Linked DNA regions of Homo sapiens. The protein of the gene in region 1 interacts with the protein of each later gene in a biochemical or structural test. Each region holds a gene or a part of one and is shown in the gene's direction. Other genes may lie near its edges.

Evidence for each region. Proteins that work in one complex are often made in the same cells at the same time.
Region 2: of the proteins of SGK1 (region 1) and RICTOR, one has a biochemical effect on the other in vitro, tested with the Homo sapiens proteins (one study listed by BioGRID).

The regions. Positions count from the first base shown.
Region 1 is NC_000006.12:134,167,415-134,175,112, reverse strand, and holds the end of SGK1 (serine/threonine-protein kinase Sgk1), read left to right. Parts: intron 1-246; exon of another isoform or gene 247-305; coding exon of another isoform or gene 306-381; intron 382-526; coding exon 527-602; intron 603-1,032; coding exon 1,033-1,108; intron 1,109-1,546; coding exon 1,547-1,651; intron 1,652-1,755; coding exon 1,756-1,839; intron 1,840-1,958; coding exon 1,959-2,090; intron 2,091-2,338; coding exon 2,339-2,451; intron 2,452-2,796; coding exon 2,797-2,920; intron 2,921-3,380; coding exon 3,381-3,476; intron 3,477-3,934; coding exon 3,935-4,090; intron 4,091-4,197; coding exon 4,198-4,287; intron 4,288-4,677; coding exon 4,678-4,845; 3' UTR 4,846-5,857; downstream 5,858-7,698. UniProt on the Homo sapiens protein: Serine/threonine-protein kinase which is involved in the regulation of a wide variety of ion channels, membrane transporters, cellular enzymes, transcription factors, neuronal excitability, cell growth, proliferation, survival, migration and apoptosis.
Region 2 is NC_000005.10:38,938,400-38,946,069, reverse strand, and holds part of RICTOR (rapamycin-insensitive companion of mTOR), read left to right. Parts: intron 1-345; coding exon 346-579; exon of another isoform or gene 580-1,001; coding exon 1,002-1,157; exon of another isoform or gene 1,158-1,500; coding exon 1,501-1,624; exon of another isoform or gene 1,625-1,836; coding exon of another isoform or gene 1,837-1,869; intron 1,870-3,098; coding exon 3,099-3,237; intron 3,238-3,691; coding exon 3,692-3,766; 3' UTR 3,767-7,670. UniProt on the Homo sapiens protein: Component of the mechanistic target of rapamycin complex 2 (mTORC2), which transduces signals from growth factors to pathways involved in proliferation, cytoskeletal organization, lipogenesis and anabolic output.

The DNA.
Region 1 (7,698 bases):
GAGCCGATGGAGACTGATAACGGCCCTGCGCCAGGCCGTCCCCGGGCGGTCCTCGCGCCCCCGCCCGGGGCTCGCCCTCTCAATGGGGACAGAACCGCCCGCCGCAGGCAGCGTAGCCGCCAGCAAACCGCGAGGCGGCCGGGGCGGGGCGAGGGGCGAGGCGAAGGGCGGGGCCACTTCTCACTGTCGCGCAGGCCCCGCCCCCGCGGCGGTGCCTTTTTTATAAGGCCGAGCGCGCGGCCTGGCGCAGCATACGCCGAGCCGGTCTTTGAGCGCTAACGTCTTTCTGTCTCCCCGCGGTGGTGATGACGGTGAAAACTGAGGCTGCTAAGGGCACCCTCACTTACTCCAGGATGAGGGGCATGGTGGCAATTCTCATCGGTGAGTGCAGGAATCTTGCGGGACTTCTGCTCCAGGAGACGCAAAGTGGAAATTTTTTGAAAGTCCCGGATCAGATTAGTGTGTGTGGCGCCGGACGTTATGAAGCCGTCTAAACGTTTCTTTATTTCTCCTCCTTCATCCACAGCTTTCATGAAGCAGAGGAGGATGGGTCTGAACGACTTTATTCAGAAGATTGCCAATAACTCCTATGCATGCAAACAGTAAGTTTGACCGGATTTGAGGAAATAACTAGTATAGTTTGAATTTGCCAGCGGTAAACATTCTCATCACGGCGTTTATCGGGAAGGCGAAGACTTCTTCTGGGGTGGGGATCTCATTTCTCCTTAAATTCTAATATATTTGACACATTTTAAACATTAAAGTTAATTTGCTGATTTGGCTTGAACTGGAGATGTAAGATAAATGGTTCGTGTTGGCCGAATTCACGGCCTTTCTCCATGAGCAACAATCCTTATTTCTGTATTTAATGGGGTTTATTATTTTCTTTAACTGACTAATGTATTGGGGTATTTTCAGTTTAAACAGTGAATTATCCGGGTAGAAGTCGGTAGAGCCAGAAACTCACTTTTGATGTTGGTGTGCCCCCTAGTGGCGAGCTGGATTCTAAATCGTGCCCTTTATTCCCTGCAGCCCTGAAGTTCAGTCCATCTTGAAGATCTCCCAACCTCAGGAGCCTGAGCTTATGAATGCCAACCCTTCTCCTCCAGTAAGTTTTTGTATGTGCCGTGCATCTGTGGAGAACTGTAAGGGAGTCAGTTAGTATTCCTACATTAATGGATTAAAATAGCATTTCTAGAAATTAGTATCAAGGCAGGAATGCTTCATTATGGCATAACAAGTGATATAAATATTTAAGTATTGAGTCAGAGTATTATTTTATTTTTTTCCTGGGCATATTTTACCTCCAAAGTGGTTATTTTAAAAGGCATATTTCATAAAAAGGTTTTATCTGTCTGAAACAACATGACTGTGTGCAGTTTCCATACTCATTTGAAATGTGATGAAATGTAGTTTTGAATGTTTATAGATGTATGGTCATTTGCATCAGTCATTTGTAGATGTAACATTTTCTACATCGTTTATGTTATAGATGTCTTCCTTTGAAGCAATGGTATTAAAAGAAATTCTTTTTTTTTTTTTCTAGCCAAGTCCTTCTCAGCAAATCAACCTTGGCCCGTCGTCCAATCCTCATGCTAAACCATCTGACTTTCACTTCTTGAAAGTGATCGGAAAGGGCAGTTTTGGAAAGGTAATTTCAAATCTGAAGATCTTTTGGTACACTTCCTTCATGTCCTCTTTTGTATTCTCCCTGGATGAGGATAGAAAAATGATTTTTTTAAATTGAAATTTCAGGTTCTTCTAGCAAGACACAAGGCAGAAGAAGTGTTCTATGCAGTCAAAGTTTTACAGAAGAAAGCAATCCTGAAAAAGAAAGAGGTATGAGATGTGCTTGATGGGGCTGGCATTGGCGGTAGACACTCCTTGAATAATCTTGATTCTGGAATGTTGGTGCCAAGTTGAAACATGCCACTAAATCTGAATCGTCATTTTCCTAGGAGAAGCATATTATGTCGGAGCGGAATGTTCTGTTGAAGAATGTGAAGCACCCTTTCCTGGTGGGCCTTCACTTCTCTTTCCAGACTGCTGACAAATTGTACTTTGTCCTAGACTACATTAATGGTGGAGAGGTGAGCAGGGGGGATAGAAGTCAACTCTTAGTGTCTCTGCACAGCCTGCTTTGTTTTAGTTTGAGAAAAAAGTTTTCAAAGATTTTTGGTGGGGAGAATGTTACCAGAATTAGCATTTCCTTCAACCTGTCAGGTTTATAGTTAATAGATTACTTGGGGCCACTTCCTGCAGTTGTTCTTTTGCTGTGTATGTCAAAACTAATTAAATTCATTTGCAACCCAGAATGACTTTGTTCTGTCTCCTGCAGTTGTTCTACCATCTCCAGAGGGAACGCTGCTTCCTGGAACCACGGGCTCGTTTCTATGCTGCTGAAATAGCCAGTGCCTTGGGCTACCTGCATTCACTGAACATCGTTTATAGGTAAGCCTGAGAGCTCTTCAGGCTACCAGTTTTGGTATAAAGGAGACGTAGCACTGGCTGTTTCATAGGGCCTTAAAATAATTTGTGTTTATTTGCAACTTGGTTGCCTAAAACCAGATCCCCTAGCACGTGAGCTGGCTTGACTTAAGTGCCAAGGGGGAACCAGCCAAGTAGGATTGTGCCTAATCCAGAATAGATGAGCAGAACAAGGGCTCCCTTTTTTCTTCACTACACAACTACAGTGAACCTAAAATGCCTCTAATACCTTTAGCAATTATCTTTAAGAGGATATCTTATGAAGTGAAATTAACTTGTGCAACTACTTTTCTATTCACTTTTTTACAGAGACTTAAAACCAGAGAATATTTTGCTAGATTCACAGGGACACATTGTCCTTACTGACTTCGGACTCTGCAAGGAGAACATTGAACACAACAGCACAACATCCACCTTCTGTGGCACGCCGGAGGTAGGCGCTGTCTTGGTTTGGTGCCTGGTTTACCCCCGCCTTCCAAGAGAGAGATGTACAATCATGCACTTAACTACCAAAAAGAGTAAACTCCTCTCAGAGACTTCTTAATACAGTTCAGTGCAAATAAAATACATTTGCTGTTTGATGTAGCATGAGAAATCCCAAGTCCTTCTGTTCCTTTACTGAAAAGTAGCTGTTTGTAAGTAAGATCTGCATCATAAAAACTTTCTAAATCCCTAAGTAAGAGATATCAAGTGCCCAGCAGTTTCCTAAATGTCAGTACACATAGGTAGCCAGTCACCCTCAAAAAGTCCAGCAGTTTTATCAGGAAGGAATCTAAAGATATCTATCTTCCAAGCTGGCTCTGGGTCTCTCAGCTTTTTCAAACTAAATGTGTGGTCGTGGGATTGCTTGCTTTCGCAGGTTCTAAACGCTGTTTCCCTGGTCTGTTTTTCAGTATCTCGCACCTGAGGTGCTTCATAAGCAGCCTTATGACAGGACTGTGGACTGGTGGTGCCTGGGAGCTGTCTTGTATGAGATGCTGTATGGCCTGGTGAGTGGCACATTGGGAACCATGGAACACTGCCTGCTCCCTACAATATTGCCTTCACACAGCCCATGCTTGGCCATGGTGTCTTGCCCTTACCAGTACGCTTATCAAAAGCAGCTAAGAGGCATATTGGTTATTTTATAGTTCATAAGAATAATCACTTACCTGGTTCTTTTGTGCATTTCACATTTTACTAGATAGGACCACATTGAACCTGTGTGGTGGTGAAAAACTACCACTTATTAACATCTACCCCCTCACCCTCCACACACACACACACAAACACACACACGGGTTGCAAAGTAGACACTTAAATAGCAAGGGAAAAGAAAGCATTGAGGTGGGGAGAGTTTCTCAAATCGAGCCTAATATTTATTGCCGTTTATATCTTTTTCTCTACTGGTAATGTGTGCCATATGAAACTTCCAATTAAGTCTAAAGTAATTTTCCCCTTCTTTCAGCCGCCTTTTTATAGCCGAAACACAGCTGAAATGTACGACAACATTCTGAACAAGCCTCTCCAGCTGAAACCAAATATTACAAATTCCGCAAGACACCTCCTGGAGGGCCTCCTGCAGAAGGACAGGACAAAGCGGCTCGGGGCCAAGGATGACTTCGTGAGTGATGTTTTCCTGTCCTCCTGGGCCGGCCGGGACGTGCACTAGACCTCCCTGCCCTTATTGAATGCACCTGTCTAAATTAATCTTGGGTTTCTTATCAACAGATGGAGATTAAGAGTCATGTCTTCTTCTCCTTAATTAACTGGGATGATCTCATTAATAAGAAGATTACTCCCCCTTTTAACCCAAATGTGGTGAGTATCTGTCTCTCTTCTAAGTATAGAGAAGCCCAAAGGGCATTTATTTTAATTCAGAATTGTCTGGGGGAGGGTTGGAAGGAATACATTGGCAGATGTTTTCTCCATAAACCTGTTATTTTACCTACATAAAAAGCACATTTTTGTGTCCCAACAAGGCTCCCATAATTTTTAGACACATTTATCAATTCGAAGCACCAAAAGGCAACAAGTGAACATTATTCTTATGTTTAACTGTGTGTAGCCTTTTGAGATTTTGTGCTTGAAGTGGGTGATTATGGAAGTTGATATAAGACTTAAACTTGGTATTTAAAGCCTGGTCAAGATTTCCCTGTCCTGTGTCTAGTGTGAGTTCTTGACAAGAGTGTTTTTCCCTTCCCGTCACAGAGTGGGCCCAACGACCTACGGCACTTTGACCCCGAGTTTACCGAAGAGCCTGTCCCCAACTCCATTGGCAAGTCCCCTGACAGCGTCCTCGTCACAGCCAGCGTCAAGGAAGCTGCCGAGGCTTTCCTAGGCTTTTCCTATGCGCCTCCCACGGACTCTTTCCTCTGAACCCTGTTAGGGCTTGGTTTTAAAGGATTTTATGTGTGTTTCCGAATGTTTTAGTTAGCCTTTTGGTGGAGCCGCCAGCTGACAGGACATCTTACAAGAGAATTTGCACATCTCTGGAAGCTTAGCAATCTTATTGCACACTGTTCGCTGGAAGCTTTTTGAAGAGCACATTCTCCTCAGTGAGCTCATGAGGTTTTCATTTTTATTCTTCCTTCCAACGTGGTGCTATCTCTGAAACGAGCGTTAGAGTGCCGCCTTAGACGGAGGCAGGAGTTTCGTTAGAAAGCGGACGCTGTTCTAAAAAAGGTCTCCTGCAGATCTGTCTGGGCTGTGATGACGAATATTATGAAATGTGCCTTTTCTGAAGAGATTGTGTTAGCTCCAAAGCTTTTCCTATCGCAGTGTTTCAGTTCTTTATTTTCCCTTGTGGATATGCTGTGTGAACCGTCGTGTGAGTGTGGTATGCCTGATCACAGATGGATTTTGTTATAAGCATCAATGTGACACTTGCAGGACACTACAACGTGGGACATTGTTTGTTTCTTCCATATTTGGAAGATAAATTTATGTGTAGACTTTTTTGTAAGATACGGTTAATAACTAAAATTTATTGAAATGGTCTTGCAATGACTCGTATTCAGATGCTTAAAGAAAGCATTGCTGCTACAAATATTTCTATTTTTAGAAAGGGTTTTTATGGACCAATGCCCCAGTTGTCAGTCAGAGCCGTTGGTGTTTTTCATTGTTTAAAATGTCACCTGTAAAATGGGCATTATTTATGTTTTTTTTTTTGCATTCCTGATAATTGTATGTATTGTATAAAGAACGTCTGTACATTGGGTTATAACACTAGTATATTTAAACTTACAGGCTTATTTGTAATGTAAACCACCATTTTAATGTACTGTAATTAACATGGTTATAATACGTACAATCCTTCCCTCATCCCATCACACAACTTTTTTTGTGTGTGATAAACTGATTTTGGTTTGCAATAAAACCTTGAAAAATATTTACATATATTGTGTCATGTGTTATTTTGTATATTTTGGTTAAGGGGGTAATCATGGGTTAGTTTAAAATTGAAAACCATGAAAATCCTGCTGTAATTTCCTGCTTAGTGGTTTGCTCCCAACAGCAGTGGTTTCTGACTCCAGGGGAGTATAGGATGGTCTTAAAGCCAACCTACGTTCCAGGCCTTTTTAGCAGCATTTTATGGTGTCTGTCATTCATAAATCCATCCAAGGAAATCCTTTGCAATTTACTCATCTTGCAAGGATTGCTATGAAGTAATGCTTCCTGTATTTATTGCCTGTCCTGTGAAGTTGGACTATTTGTCCTGACATTTGGCTTGTCTTCAGTTACAGGTAATTCTTTCCAGAAATATTTGAAAGCCTACTCTGGGCTCTATTGCGAGTGCTCAGGATATCGTAGTGGACAAAGCAGACAACTTCGCCCTTCCAGAGCCTGATGAAGAAGGCCGACCTAAAGCAGTTAGTTGAGATGGAAATTGAGAAATAGTCTGTGAAGTTTAGGAGAATGCCACACAAGAGGGTGAGAATTTTTTTTTTTTTTTTTTTTTTTTTTGAGACACGGTCTTACTCTGTCGCCCAGGCTGGAGTGCAGTGGTGTGATCTTGGTTCACTGCAGCCTCCGCCTCCTGGGTTCATGTGATCCCCCCATCTCAGCCTCCTGAGTAGCTGGGACTACAGGCATGCACCACCATGCCTGGCTAATTTTTGTATTTTAGTAGAGATGGGATTTCACCATGTGGGCCAGGCTGGTCTCGAATCCCTGGCCTCAAGTGATCTGTCTGCCTCGGCTTCCCTAAGTGCTGGGGAGAATGTTTTAAATAAGTGGATATGTTCCCAAAAAGCTGACCTGGCTGGGACATCTGGTTTCTGAGAGTACCTGGAGTTGACCCAGGTCTAGAGTGAGCTCAGTAAAGGGACCCTGAAGGAGCTCATCCCTAGCTTGGACTGAAGCTTCTTGAGCCAGTGTCTACCTAGCACCCTAAGGGCCCAGCAGGCTCTGGGGCTGTGTGGCAGAGCCCACTCCTAGAGCTCACCCCACTGTGATATTACCTGTGGGAGAAAGCGAGGTGGCACCATCCTTGGAGATCTTGAGTCCAAAGGTTTGGACTTTTTCACTCTTCTAGGTCTTCCACACAAATACTTAACAAATAATCAGGGAATCCCCAAACAGTTGATGTTGCTGCTGCCTTAATTGCAAAAGCACCCTGTAGGCCTGCTGCACCCCCGCTACCCTGACCTTCCAGTTCGCACAGGGATTTCCCCAAGGGAAAGCTGTGAGCTTTTTTCCTCTTATCCTTGCTCTTGGGTCTCACCTCACTTTGCCTCAGTCCCCCTCTCCTACCCCACAAGGTTTCCAAGGGCCAAACAGGTGTTCAGAGATAACCGAGTTCTTCTCCCTCATGATCTAATGAAGGAAGAAGATGAAAACGAGTCGATAGCTTTTTGCTCAAGGTGGGCCACCGGTCATGCTCTGCTGTTGACTTACTGCTCTACAGGCATTAGCTACGTGTTCAATTCCCTACCGGGCCCAGTTGACAAATAAAGAGTCCAAAGCAAGGCCAGGCACGGTGGCTCACGCTTGTAATCCCAGCACTTTGGGAGGCCGAGGCGGGCAGATCACGAGGTCAGGAGATCGAGACCATCCTGGCTAACATGGTGAAACCCCGTCTCTACTAAAAATACAAAAAAATTAGCCGGGCGTGGTGGTGGGCGCCTGTAGTCCCAGCTACTCGGGAGGCTGAGGCAGGAGAATGGCGTGAACCAGGGAGGCGGAGCTTGCAGTGAGCCGAGATCGCACCACTGCACTCCAGCCTGGGCG
Region 2 (7,670 bases), on another chromosome or scaffold:
AAGCCACAGGTTTTATAGCTTTATATTCTTAATGACTTTTTAAACAAATGCCTCTTTATACTTAGAATTATTACATATCTTTAGGCAAATATTGACGATAATTGAAATGATGTATTATATAATCTCAATTTTCCATTTTGTATTTAAAACACTATATATTAAAATAATAAACATCTGCTGGCTTTCCTTATTTTTATAACTTAAAGCAAATTATTCTTTTTTTCTTTCCAGTTAGATTTTGAGTCATAAAATGTGCTTAAGCTTTCTTTAAAATTTCACATAATTTAAGGTACCTTGAAAAGTATTATCTTTATTGGATTATGTTTTATATTTACTTATGCACAGGTCTTCCATCTGGAACTGGAGGTCTTGTAAAAAATTCTTTTCACTTGCTACGACAGCAGATGAGTCTTACGGAAATAATGAATTCAATCCATTCAGATGCCTCTCTGTTTTTAGAAAGTACAGAAGACACTGGACTACAGGAACATACAGATGATAACTGCCTTTATTGTGTCTGTATTGAAATTCTGGGTTTCCAGCCCAGCAACCAACTGAGTGCAATATGTAGTCATTCAGGTAAGTGATCACGTCCCACCTTCAGAAAAACCTAGTGATGACTAAAGTTCTCTGGTTTACTTTTCCAAATTTCTTTTTGGTATTCTAATTCAGAGTTTCCCAGCTGGTGAGCTGCAGCACACTGATATGCCAAATTATGTTATGCTGAGATGCTGATCCTCTCACGGTTCCAGGTCACAGTGGGGCCTGAGTCTGACAGATCCCTGGATTAGGTCTTTTCCACTGTGAACAGCCCTGTCCAGGCCCTTTGCATGCTGTAGTTATTTTCATTTTCTATGAGGAAAAAAGTTTTGGAAGTGTTTGGTATATTGCATACAATTAGAGAAGATGTTATTTTATATTATTTCTTTTTAGCATGCAATGTAAGCACAGGAATTAAGCCGTTATGGTGCTTTAATTGAAATAATTATTTTTTTCTTCAGACTTTCAAGATATTCCATATTCTGATTGGTGTGAGCAGACTATCCATAATCCTTTAGAAGTGGTTCCCTCTAAGTTTTCGGGGATTTCTGGATGCAGTGATGGGGTGTCTCAAGAAGGCTCAGCTAGCAGCACCAAAAGCACAGAATTGTTACTAGGTGAGTCTTCAGATTCAAATCCAATCATTATTAGTAAAACTGTTCTGATTAGTTGGTTTTGTTTTGTTTTTCGTAAATACTGTAAATTAAAGTTGTCTCAAAACAGTAATACGTCCATTTTAGTGAAGCAATTTAACACTGTTAATTATTGCACCTATATCACCCACTGACATAGAGCCTCTTAGCTATCTGCTTTTATTAGAGTTTTGCTCCCAAAATGATTGGTAGATCATGTGTAATTGATCTCTAGGTCTTTAGGTGAAGTTTAAAAATAAATTTCATGAGTTTTAATCATTTTATTGTGACATAGATAATATTTAACTTCTCCCTGAAATCTTTTCAGGTGTTAAAACAATTCCAGATGATACACCAATGTGCCGTATACTCCTTCGCAAAGAAGTTCTAAGATTAGTCATTAATTTGAGTAGTTCAGTTTCAACTAAATGTCATGAGACTGGGCTTTTAACGTGAGTAAACTATGTGCATGAGTATTATTTGTTTATTCTGTTTTTTAAGTCGAGAAAAGATACTTGAAATACTTCAAAAGTTAGGCTAGTTAACTTACATCAGTAGTTCTAAACTGCATTGCATACCTGTGTGAGGCTAGATTTTCTTTAATACTTCAGCCAAAACAACATATGGCAACAGATTGAATGTAGAAGCAAGTATGAGAATCCAGCTATCTTCTATTAAGCCAGACTTTTGAAGAGATCTGCAAAAAATGTAAAATAATGCCACTCTTCTCACTTTTTTACTTTTGGAAAATACAGTTATTTTTATTAAAATACATGTTAACATGTAATGGATTTATTTTTAAAATAAATTAATGCATGTTAGGAAATTCTCTCAATTTTAATTTCTAATATAGTAGTTAATGGTGGCTGTAACCCACACAAAAATAAGCTTTTTTGGGTCTTCAGTAATTTTTAAGAAAGTAAGTCCTGAGACCAAAAAGTTTGAGGAAAGTGGGCTTACATGTAACAAGTCATATTTTCTTGGTTTAATTTTTTTCTTATTATTTAAAGCAGTGGTTCTTAAAAGAAATGCACCTCAGGGTCTCCTGCAGGGCTTTTTTATTTTGTATTTTGTATTTCTTTTTTGAGACGGAGTCTTGCTCTGTCACCCAGGCTGGAGTGCAGTGGTGCAATCTCGGCTCACTGCAACCTCTGCCTCCCGGGTTCAAGCAATCCTCCTGCCTCAGCCTCCCAAGTAGCTGGGATTACAGGTGTGTACCACCACACCTAGCTAATTTTTGTATTTTTAGTAGAAACAGAGTTTCGCCAGGTTAGCCAGGTTGGTCTCAAACTCCTGACCTCAGGTGATCTCCTGTCTCAGCCTCCCAAAGTGCTGGGATTACAGGCATGAGCCACCGTGCCCAGCCAGCTGTAGGGCTTTTTTTTAAGGGTGATATAGGTATTGGGGTCCCACATAGGTATCAGGGTCCCACAGCAGACCTCTGGGCTGGGAGCTCTGGGAGCGGGCCCTTAACTGGTCACTCACCCAACTCACAGCTGATTCTGAGGTGCTTTCCTAGCTAAAAGCTGCTATTTGAAGTATCCAAAGAAATAGCCCAGTCAGGGATGTTAATAACTTAACTTTAAAGATGTATTTCTATTTTAAAACTTAATTTGGAACATATTTTAATCATCCTAGGCTGATAAATATATTTTGCAATTTCTCATGCCAATAAAAAAGAATGCTTCAATTTTACAAGAAGTATTCAGGTTTTGATAATCATTTTTTTTAAAAAAAAACCCAAACTCAGAATGTCTAAGTGTGTGACAGGAATATTTAATATTTTATATTCTCAAGTCATCACCCCAAGTATGCCATCTAATCCATATCTGTAGGGAAATCTATTTTTAAAGTAAGTGATACCTTGGAGGAAAAATAGATACATCATGATTACAGTTTTCATCACACCATAATCTTTTATTTTAGAATTAAGGAGAAGTATCCTCAAACATTTGATGACATATGCCTTTACTCTGAGGTTTCCCATTTGCTGTCACACTGCACATTCAGACTTCCGTGTCGGAGGTTCATACAAGAATTATTTCAAGATGTACAGTTTCTACAAGTAAGTATGATTAGTACTTCTCAAATTTATCTTCCAAGAATAATTCTGTGTTTGAATTGAATTAAAATACAGATTATAGCTGGGTGTGGTGACTCATGCCTACAATCCCAGCACTTTGTGGGGTCAGCGCGGGAGAATTGCTTGAGCCCAGGAATTCAAGACCAGCCTGGGCAACATAGTGAGACCGTGTCAACACAGTTTTTTTTTTTTTTTAATTAGCCGAGGTTGGTGTCATCTGCCTGTATTCCCAGCTACTTGGGAGGCTGAGGTGGGAGGATCATATGAACCCAGGACTCAGAGGTTGCAATGAACAAAGATGGCAACATTGTGCTGCATCCTGGGAAGACTGAGCAAGACCCTATCTCAAAAAAAAAAAAAAATTAGATATTTATATAAATATGTTATATCATCTGTTTTTATAAAAGTAATTGATGATACACCATTTTTTCCCTAGATGCATGAAGAAGCAGAGGCTGTGTTGGCAACACCACCAAAGCAACCTATAGTTGATACATCTGCTGAATCCTGACCTCATATTTATGATGGATATAGATACATACTATATATATTCATATTTGTGGATTTCCTAAAAGCCTCAGAAAATACGACTGACTAGGCAGCAAAGACAGGAGTATCTTCTGTACACTGTTCCGCAGTTACTGGTACATGAACAGTTGGAACTGCTGACTTTCCTAACCAAAACAACTTCCTTCTCTCCTTTGTTGAGCCTTTTGAGGGGTTCATGATTCATTACCACAGTTTTAAGAGTTTCAGTTACCATTGTATGCAAGAGCCAAGCACTGAATACCTACATAGGTTTTCTATTTTCTTTCATTTTAAAAGCATAATGACAGTGGAACAATAATGGGATATGCAGAAGCACCCTTCACAAGTTATTTCTGAATGATTTTTAGGGTAAATAATACAGATGCCTTGTTTGTTAACTAACTTGTGGAAAGCAGGAATCAGTGTCTCTAAGGCTGCATCCTATTACCACAATGGGGTGTGCTATAACTGCTGGTATTAGAGAGGGAACTTTGGCCCTTTCACGTTTTTCTTAATGTTTGTAACACTACTTCAGAGGTTTATAACCTCAAAGCAGAAGAAGAGCCTCAACAACCCGGGACTTATAAGTTATTTTTATGTTACTAGACTTGCATAAAGATTCTTGTTTTCCAACTCTTCATTTTGTTGCAATGTGTTATTACAGGATATATGAACCAATTAAGGTTTTTCACTACAGTTCTTGAATAAAATTTAAAAATCATTTTTTATTTTAATTAAAAATATTTCCCATTTATAGAATGCATATATTTGCAATGGACTTCCACTTTCATCAACTTTCCATCTCATCGCTTTAAACAGGAACTTGAACAAGCACTGTTAGTTTAGACCTAAAGGATAGGAAAGCATTAAATAATACTTTGGATCTCCTGAGGAAAAGATAAGTTTGCTTGCAATTTACACATTCCATGGGGAAAGAAGAGCCATATTTCCTTAAAAAAAACATTAATAAAGCTTGTTATTGAGAAAAATTGTAGTGAAAAGCCTTAAGTACCAAATTTTAAAGCAGCAGTAACTTAATTTTTATATCAGTGTTTTTGTTTTGCACAAACTAAATGCAGTGGTAGGTGGGTTTATGAGTATATTAATTGCCTTTATCCATTTGTGAAGTTAAGTTGATGAGGGCAAGGTTTTTGTTTGTTTAATTTGTATATGTCTAAAGGTATTTGGAACTTTTTACAGGAATTAAACATATATGCAAATTTGTATATAAAAATAGCATGGCCATCATTTGAATGCTTGTAAATGAAAGGATTATCTTTTTTGAGATCTATATATAAATAGAAATAGAAAATCCAGCTGGACTGATTAGGATTCTTTTTTAATTCATTTGTGTATAACATTTTTATTACAATTACACATCAGTTTTGACACAGTCATAGCAACATTAATATTTTCCCATGATGCAGATCCTTTTTGTAATGGGCTTGTTCTTTGAGATCTCTGTAAAGAACCCTGTGAACTAGAAAACATAACTCACAGAGATACTTTTTTAAAAAATTTATTTACTGGAACTGAAAGTTCCAGTTGGGATGAAGCATTTCATCTCACTTCATAACACCTCTTTGACTGCACTTCAGTGAATTGTTCTTATGTGCACTGTGTAGCAACTTACATTATAACAAAGCAGATAAGGGCTGTAAGCTGCTGCTTATGTTGAAAAGTGGTTCTTCAGATTTTCTCTCATAAAATCCAGTTGAAGATAAATAATTTTTTTATACTTTATCACTGAACCCAAGTGTTTATTTAAATGTCAACAGTACTTCTAAGAACGTTGCCTGTCATCGTGGTCTTTGGTCTTGGATAACTAAACTGCCTTTCCAGAGAACCAAATGTCAGAGTTACTAGACCAAATAGTGGTTAAAACCTCCAAAGGAAGTAATGTAATCTTATTCATAATGGGATTAACATATTTTAGACATTCATTTTAAACACTACCTCAGTTAATATAGAGTATAAAAATCTGTGGTTTAATCCCTCAAAAGTTAACAGTAATTTTTTTTTTGTCTTACACACACACACACCCCCTCCCCCACCATCACTATCCCTGTACCCTCACCTTGGTCATCTATCCTGAAATAAGGCTTAGTTAGTATTGGCCTGAATGTTTTGTGTTTTTTTTTTTGTTTTTTTTTTTTACTGTTACTTTGAAAAATATGTATGTATACCTTATCATATCTGCCTATATCACTTACTTTGGGGAGATACTCAGAGCTTTGTGGTTATCAGTATACTAAAAAAAAAAAAAAGTCTACGCTTAAATTTATAGTGCTATTTGGTTTCTCCATGATTTCACTGACAGGTCTAATACATTTTCTTTGAGTACTTGTTTGTAAAAAGTAGACTTTATGGTGAAAAATACATGCAGTGCCAAGTGATTAACTTAAGTGTTTAAAAATATTAAATTATAGCAGAAGAGGTTAGGAATGATATCAGCAGTAATAGAAATAATTGAGAAAATCATCTATAAATAATAGATATTACAGACTATAGAATACCAAAATAATGTCAATACTGTAGTTTTTAAAGATTTTAGGATTAATCTTAGTCCATATAAATTTGTACTATTGGTAATTATTGAATAATTGGGAGGAATCTGGGCAGTTGTGCTGGTTGTAAACTATGAATTTCTAATCGTAAAGTGAATTGTTATTTCTAATTGAACTTTTTTTCAAGAACAGATTTCAGCCTCACATACTAAGTAAATACTGATAAATAAGGAAATTAGAAATTTAGTATTCATAATTAAATATGCTCTAAAATTTCCTATACTTTTATTTCCTGTTTATTCTTAGGTAGATTGGAAGGGGGAAACAGTCTGTTCTCCCTAATTAAATTTTTTCTAATAACGATTAGTAGAATATGGACATTCTATATGACAGTGACATTAAAAGAGGCTCTTTGGAAGTATATACATTATTAACATAATGTGTACAAGTCCTTTTGAAATGACAACTTTAATGGGTTTCAGCTCTTTTATCTAGAGCTTGAGATAATTCAAGCTGAGTTTTTCAGGGCATATCACAACGGCCAAGTGTTCAGCAGTGGGATATCAATGCTTATTTACATTTTCCTACTGCTATTTATATAAAATGTTATTCCATTCAGAGGATGCCTTTTATCCCCACATTAAAGCACAGATCATTAAGCAATAAAAACCAAATTGTCTGTCATTCAAATTATAACTGCAGTTATTTTTGCATGGTAAGAGTGAGGTGCTAATTTTGTGTGAGATGAACTTTGTAAACTACTTTGGGAAATGTTCTTTGGAAGTAAGGTTTTTTCTCCTTTAGTCTTATGCTTCCACTTTTGTCTCAGATTCACAATCCATTAAAACATGGGGAAAAAAGAAAAGGTAAAATTGAGAGACTTTTGTTAGAGGAGCTATTTGGAATGAACCAACATTTCAGATTTTCCAAAATGTAAGTTAGGAAGTCTCCATTGTCTCTGCATTAACAAAATACACTGTTACTATCTTAATCTCAAGAGTGTCATTACAGTGAGAATCTCATTTAAAAGCATACCAGTGAAATTAATAGCAGTGCTTATCAAAGAACACTGAAATCTGTGAGAATCTTTCTAGGAGCATTCTTTTCTTCTTTTAGTTCCAAGTTCCAGGGTATTTTTCATTCCTAGTAGGTTTATATGACTCACAGAATGTGGACTTTTTTCCTGTTTGGAGTATTTTTGTAATGTAAGTATCGGATAGCTGCACCACAGCATGCATAAATTGCACATTTTGTTTTACTTTCTTTATAGAATATTTAATTTCAAAAATATAATTTATGCCAAAAAAAGCATACCTTTCAATTTTGCTACTTGGTTGATTTAGCACAAAATGCAAAGTCTTGGGGCAGAGAGGGGGAGTG